2 linked regions of the Homo sapiens genome follow. The protein of the gene in region 1 interacts with the protein of each later gene in a pairwise test. Each region holds a gene or a part of one and is shown on either strand. Other genes may lie near its edges.

Region 1 (3,751 bases):
AGGTTACAACTAGGATTTTAATCCAAATCCTTCTGCTTTCAAAGCCATACTCAACCATCCTACTCTACCATCTCCAGAGGTCTGACTCAACTATGTTGCAGAAGAAAAGTTTCCTTAACCATGTAGAAAATAAGAAGAGCAGGCTGGGCGCGGTGACTCACGCGTGTAATTCTAGCACTTTGGGAGGCCGAGACAGGCAGACTGCTGAAGCTCAGGAGTTCGAGACCAGCCTGAGCAACATGGTGAAACCCTGTCTCTACTAAAAATAGAAAAAATTAGCCAGGGGTAGTGGTGCGCGCCTGTAGTCCCAGCTGCTGGGGAGGCTGAGGCAGGAGAATCGCTTGAACCCAGGAGAGAGAGTTTCAGTGAGCCAAGATAGCGCCACTGCACTCCAGCCTGGGCAACAGAACGAGACTCCGTCTCAAAAAAAAAAAAAAAAAGAAAAAAGAAAAGAAGAGCAAAAGAATCTCTGCATAGTTTTATTTTTTCTTTTATTTATTTATTTGTGTGTGTGTGTGTGTGTGAGAGAGACAGAGAGAAATAGGAGAAATAGGATCTTGCTGTGTTGCCCAGGCTGGAGTGCAGTGGTGTGATTACAACTCACTGCAGGCTTGACCTCCTAGGCTCAAGCGATCCTCCCACCTCACCCTCCTGAGTAGCTGGGACTACGGGCACAGGCTACCATGCCCAGACAATTTTTTATTATTTGTAGAGACAGGGTCTCCCTACATAGCCCAGGCTGGTCTCCAATTCCCCCACTCAAGTGATCCTCTCGCCTCTCAAAGTGCTGGGATTACAGGTGTGAGCCACCATGCCTGCCCTGTTTGTTTTTTAAACAGGGATCACGCACAGATGCTGAGAGCTTTCCAGCTAAAGCCCAACAGGGAGCCCCACTGATCATCTCCCCAACCGGACGTCTCCACATGGTTCGGTGGCTTGGCCAGGCAGCAGCACAGCATGCCTCTTCCTCATGAAAAGACCCAGGCACAGGAGGGAGGCTGGCTCTAGCGACCAGAATGCTGGTGGGGAACAGGTGGTTAAGATATCTTTCCCTCTTAATATCAGTCAGCATCCCTCTCCCCACGCGGCCAGCAGGCCCAGCCCCGGGGACCTTTGTGGTGGTGAGTGGTGCCTTCCAGTATGGGGCAGGGTGGCTTCCCACCTCAAAAATTTTCCAGAGAAGATTTTAAAAGCTCTTAAGAGACAAAGTAGTAATTCAACAATTAAGGGCAATGATTCCTAAGGAGAAGCCTTCTCTTCTAGAACAGCACAGCCAAGTTCGACAGGCACAAAGAAATATCTGTAGTGACAAGAGAAGGTTCTTCAGTGGTGCCCATCAGCATGTGGAGCCGGCCACCGCCCCTGCCTCCATAGAAGGTAAGTCCATTTTCTCTTGTCTGCATGACAGAAAAAGGAGGCTGTCACCCGTGTCTCCCACTCCAAGGGCCTAAGCGGCGCACCTCTCAACCTTTCCTTTCAAGGGCTGAAAGGTTGTCCTCTTCCTCTCCCCACTCGGCCCCGATCCCCTTTTGCTCGGCACCTCTCTCCCCACTACTCGGCCCCCCTCACACCTCTTCTCCCCACCCCTCTCCCTGCTAGACCTCTCTTTCTCTGTCCCCCGCCCCTTTTTACTCCCCGCTCGACCCCTTTTCCCTCAGCCCGCTGCCGCCCAGTCCGCGGTACCTTGAGGGTCACGTCGCACAGCTTGCCCTGCCGCCGGATCTCCTCCATGACGCCGTAGCCGCGACTAGGCAACTCAGACACGGAGAAGTGCACCAGATCCTCCAGCTCCTCCGCGCCGTCCTCCACCATCTTCCCCGGCCGCTGCAACTGCGCAGGCCTCGCCGGCCGGCTAGACACTAACCAGGGCGGGGCGATAGCGCACGCCGACAGCCGCTCGGAGCGCGGAGCAGCAATCGGACGGGCCTCCGCGGCCGCCGTAGTTGAATCTCCTCGGCGCCGGAAGCCCCGCCACTCCGCTTCCTGGTTCATGTGCGGCCTTCGTTCCCTCGCTATCTCGACCTTGACTTCGCATGTGCATCCGCCGAAGTCTTTCTAGATCAATCGGCCCCATCTCTCGTCTTCCCGATTCGGCCATGACCTCACCCGTATCCTCGACGTAGGACCTCGGACTTCATTTCCGCCACCCCGACACTTCCGGAATCCCCGGAAGCGACCCGTTGCCATGGCGACTATGTACACAGCCAGGCAGCCCCGCGTGGGGAGTGCAGGTGGTTTCGGTTGCGGCAGTCGCGTCCCGGGAGCGTCGCTGCCTGGTGAACGGTGAGCAGGGGCTGCTCGCCGGTGGGAGTGGGGAGACGGGAAAAGGGTGTGCGCCCGGACTGCTGAAAGTGGCTGGGGTCCAAAAACCGCTTTATCTGGGGGTTCCCAGCTGGGTCGCTCATCTCTGAAACCCAGGCGAAGGAGGGCTCGACGTCGCGGGAGTCCTTTCAACCTGACCGCGGCTTACGGTCTTCGGAGCTAATGTTCATTGGTCCCACAAAGGGGTCCCACGTCGCGTCCAGGACATAGAGGCCGTGAGGCAGGGAGCCAGAGGTCGTCTGGACTCTTCCGTACTAGTCAGTTTTCGAACTAGAGGGGGCTTTGGGATCACCAGTCGGAGCCCTTCGTGTTACAGGTGAGGAAACCTCTCCAGAGAGGGACCGGAATGGGTCCAAAGCCCACTGCCGCCCAGGCTCCACGCGGGGGTCCGGCACATTGGGTGAGAAAAAGGAGAAAGTCTAGTTTTGCCTGCATCCTAGTCTTGTTCAGCCAAGGCCAGGTGCAGTTGGACCCAGTGTTTTGGATTCGGGTGTTGGTGCTGCCGCTACGGGTAGCTATGAGGGTTCCCCATGACAGCCCCTCATCTGGACGGGAGCACTGGAAGATAGGGACCCACCTGGTGCCTTCCACCCCACCAAACGCTCCCTTTCCTCTTGTCTAGTCTTCATGGCTGCTTGTTGCCAATTCTGTTCATTCCCACTAAAGACAAATGAGGAAACCTCGAGCGCCTTAACACAGAAGTCTCCTGGTGGCCATTCAGAGACTTGCTTTGTTATACCAGAAATATCAAAGGGTGGTTCCCCAAGGAGAGACATTCCCCACAAGGTCCTGAGGGAGAAAGGGAGGGGGCCGGGCGCCGTGGCTCACGCCTGTAATCCTAGCACTTTGGGAGGCTGAGGTGAGCGGATTGCTTGAGCTCAGGAGTTCAAGACCAGCCTGGGCAACATGGCGAAACCCTGTCTCTACGAAAAATACAAAAATTACCCGGGCGTGGTGGTGCACGCCTGTAGTCCTAGCTACTTGCGGGGCTGAGGTGGGAGGATCGCTTGAACCCAGGATGTGGAGGCTACGGTGAACCGAGATTGTTTCACTGCACTCCAGCCTAGGTGACAGAGTGAGACCCTGTCACAAAAACAAATAAACAAAAAACAAAAACAAAAACAAAAAAAGCGTGTGGTGAGGTGCTGGATGTGGATTTTTGCACCTGGAAACCAAGTGTCCTCCTGGAAGGGCTGTGGGCTTTGGTTGGAGTTGTCATGGAAGGGGAGTGACATCATATGCCCCTTGGGACTCTCTCAGTAGTGACTGAAGATAGACCCACATATGAAGATTCAGCTGCCCTCTGACTTCCAGCCATTACCATCACCAACCACCGCCATTTCCTGAATACCTACTCTGTGCTGGGCTCTGCCCTGGACATTGTGAGGGGATTCAAAAGAGATAAAAAGCACAATCCTTGCCTTCAAGC
Region 2 (3,751 bases), on another chromosome or scaffold:
CAGGTGTTTCTCTGCCTACTGTTATTTTCAACACTTTCAGGGCTGACGTCAACAGCTCATACTTCTTGTTGTTGTTGGCTTTGGTTTCTGCAAAGCTATATCTGGTTAGCTTGTAGTTTCAAATTATTAGTCTTCAGAATCAATTGGGTGTTTACATTCAGAATTATTTAAAGATAGATTTCTCTGTGTGCATATTATCTCACTACCTGTACTGATAGGAAGTGTCAGACACCCCAGTATGGCTTCTACTTGTGAACACAGTTTTAGGACAAAAAAAAAAAATCTTTGCAATGGAAAGCTCGGTAGGAAGGAGACAGGAGGAATTAAGGACAGTCTCTATCAATGATGTCAAAGAAGTAGTGATTGTCTTACCACCCACTCTCATAAATGTAGTACGTTGCTTTTGGAAAGCAGTTTTTACAGAATGCTATAGTGAGAACCAGGGACCTGACAAACAAGTCCACAAACTTCAGTGGTACCACAGACTGACTCTCTTTTCCTAATTTTCTTTTAGTTATCACATTATTGCTAAATAGGCAACTTCTGGCAGGCTGATTTCATCTATAAGTTCAGATAGGGAATGTGTGCTCTGCTCTGGGATGTGTACACTGCTGGGCTGGGCTCTGCCCTGCAGGAGCTTTCACGGTGTGTCCGGCAGCACACCCATCAGGTGCCGTAACTCCCAATTGTCCTGAACTACACCAAAGGATTTTAATCACCTCATGACAATTTTAGGTAGAAAACTGTGCTAATTTCACTAGAAAAGACTTTGAAAATTATTCTTTAATCTGTATTGTGGCATGCATGGTCAATATCCAATAATTTTTCTTGAAGAGTCTGTGAGCCCACCATCAGACCTTACTTGGAAATGGCGGTATTGTATTTCGGTTTCTCCGGGCACTTAACGTCAGGAAATTAAGTTCAGCTCCATTATTTTGTTGCATCTTTGAATAGTCTGTGGAGCGTTGATATCCTAATGCTCCTTATTTAAAAGTGGGTGGGAGTTGCATGGAAGAATTGGGGAGTGAGGCAGGGGACTGGAAAGGGAGCAGAGCACATAATTTTGGGGCCTTTGAAACAAGTAACAGTGACAAAAAACCTCACTCTGGAATCAGTAACCTCTCCCCCGCACCCTCCCCAACACTTTCAGGAGATGAGTATATAGAGTGGGGACCAGGAGGAAGTAACCTCTGTAACCCAGAAGTGGCTAAAGTGTTGAACTTTGAGCTTCTCTAAGGAGAGCTGGCTATCTGGCTGAGCTGCCAAGTACTCCTGTCTTTCAGAAATTGACAGCTGAAGTATTTGGTCTTGGTTTCCCACTGAAGAGGAATGTGTAGAATCACTGCAGAGCAGAAGAAATTAAATTTTGAATATTAATGCCTGATCTTTTAAGTTATCTGACTAAAAACAGAAGAGTGATCATAAGCCCAACCCTAGGTATCAGTGTATTATGGCTAGCAAGGAGTTAAGAAGCTTTGTCTATTCAGCAGTCATAATTGAATGTGTAGTTTGCAAGCCTGCCAAATTGCTAAACCTAGATTTCTCATATTAGATAATGTGTAATAAAAGACAGCTGTTGCCAGCATATGCTGTGAATTGCACACCAGTTCCTCATTCATGATTTTTGGCGCCATCACTACAACCCTTAGAAAAGGCTCTGACTGGAGGGCTGTCTGGGGAACATAGACCCCACTGGTCAGATCCTTGAATAAGGCTGCTCGCCCTAGGGAAAGCGGGGCAGGAAAGACTTTTTTTTTTTTTCAAAGTGCAAAACCCTTGATAAGACCTTAGACACACTTCATTTCACTTTAGGCAGGTAGTTTGGTGTGTGAGCTAGTTTCGAACCCTGGGAACATTCCTTTCCACATCGCCTGAGTCTGACAGCCCGGATCAAAAACAAGCAGGCTTTGTGTCAAGACGTGGCACGTGTCAGAGAATTTGACGGTACTTAATTTATTTAAATTGTTTTTTGTTTAAGTGTTAGATGCTTGAAACAGCCTCTTAGCTAATACCGAATGGAAACTAATTTGTAATTTGACTTAATCTGACTTTTGGTGTTGCTGATAACCCAAATTAGTCAGTCCACAGGAACTGAAAATCTGCTATGCTTCTCATGTTGTGCTAGACAAATATTTTCATCTTTAACTAGTCAATTAGCTAGATAGAAAGGTTAGAAGTAGAGTGGTGGGGGAAATATCTATAGAGGCTTCAGGTCTGTCCTGTGGTTTAAAAGATTTTACATTTGAATCTATCCAGAATGACTTTTGATTCAAAAGACCGATTGGATGAAATCTTGAAGTTCCTAATAGATGCACTGATTTCCGGCATACTAAAAGGGTATTTAAAATTGACAAGGCTCAAAATTTTACTAATAATTTATTAATTCTTGCCACCATTCATCCACTTAGCAGCTATGTACTAAGGCACTACTATCTTTGTTTTCTGTTAGTACTTTTTCTGCATTTCTTGTTTCGGATTGAATTTTTTTTTTTGTTCTTGTCTGTTTTCTTTCATTTAAAATTTTTTGGTTTTTAAAATTTGTACTTATTCAGTTGATATATAATCATACATACTCATGGTATACATAGTGATGTTTTGATACGTGGAATGTACAGTGATCAGATCAGAGTAATTAGCATATCCATCACCTCCCTCACACAATGATCATTTCTTCATTTTGGGACTGTTGAATATCCTCCTTCTAACTATTTGAAACTAGTACATGATATACTATTGTTAACTATAGTTAGCCTACAGTATAGAGCACTAGAACTTATTCTTCCTATCTAGCTGTAATTTTTTATCCTTTAACAAGTGTGTCCCTATCCATTTCTTCCCCCAACCCTTCCCAGCCTCTAGTATCCTCTGTTCTACTTTTTACTTCTATGAGATCAACTTTTTTTAGCTTCCACATATGAGTGAGAACATGTGGTGTTTAACTTTCTATTCCTGGCTTATCTCACTTAACATAATGTCTTCCAGTTCAATCCATGTTGCTGTGAATGACAGGATTTCATTCTTTTTTATGGCTGAATTGTATTCCATGGTGTATATATACCACATTTTCTTTATCCATTCATCTGTTGTTGGACACCTAGGCTGATGCCATCTCTTGGCTATTGTGAATAGTGCTGTAATAAACATGGGAGTGCAGATGTCTCTTCGATATAATGATTTCCTTTCCTTTGGATGAATTCCCAGTAGTGGGATTGCGGGATCATATGGTAGTTCTATTTGTAGTTGTTTGAGGGACCTCCATACTGTTCTCCATAGTGGCTGTACTAATTTACATTCCCACTAACAGTGTATGAAAGTTCCCTTTTCTCCTTATCCTCACCAGCATTTATTATTTATTGTCATTTTGATCATAGCTATCCTAACTGGTGTGAGATGATACCTCATTGTGGTTTTAATTTCCATTACCCCAATGATGAGTGATATTGAGCATTTTTTCATATATTTGTTAGCCATTTGTATGTCTTCTTTTTCTTCCTTTCTTTTTTTTTTTTCTTTTTTTTTTTGAGATGGAGTCTCACTCTGTCGCCAGGCTGGAGTGCAATGGCATGATCTCAGCTCACTGCAACCTCCGCCGCCCGGGTTGAAGCGATTCTTCCAACTCAGCTTCCCTAGTATCTGGGATTACAGGCACCTGCCATCATGCCTGGCTAATTTTTGTATTTTTGTAGAGACGGGGTTTTACCATGTTGGCCAGGCTGATCTTGAACTCCTGAGCTCAGTTGATCCACCCTCC

The links.
Region 2: the proteins of KIF9 (region 1) and CYTIP interact in binary tests that used the Homo sapiens proteins (3 or more experiments, as listed by UniProt).

Annotation. Positions count from the first base shown.
Region 1 is NC_000003.12:47,281,027-47,284,777, reverse strand, and holds the start of KIF9 (kinesin-like protein KIF9), read left to right. Parts: upstream 1-1,978; 5' UTR 1,979-2,185; coding exon of another isoform or gene 2,186-2,283; exon of another isoform or gene 2,284-2,638; intron 2,639-3,582; exon of another isoform or gene 3,583-3,751. Other genes in the region: KLHL18 (kelch-like protein 18), read right to left, coding at 1,684-1,812. UniProt on the Homo sapiens protein: Essential for normal male fertility and for progressive motility of spermatozoa.
Region 2 is NC_000002.12:157,437,469-157,441,219, reverse strand, and holds part of CYTIP (cytohesin-interacting protein), read left to right. Parts: intron 1-128; exon of another isoform or gene 129-1,944; intron 1,945-3,751. UniProt on the Homo sapiens protein: By its binding to cytohesin-1 (CYTH1), it modifies activation of ARFs by CYTH1 and its precise function may be to sequester CYTH1 in the cytoplasm.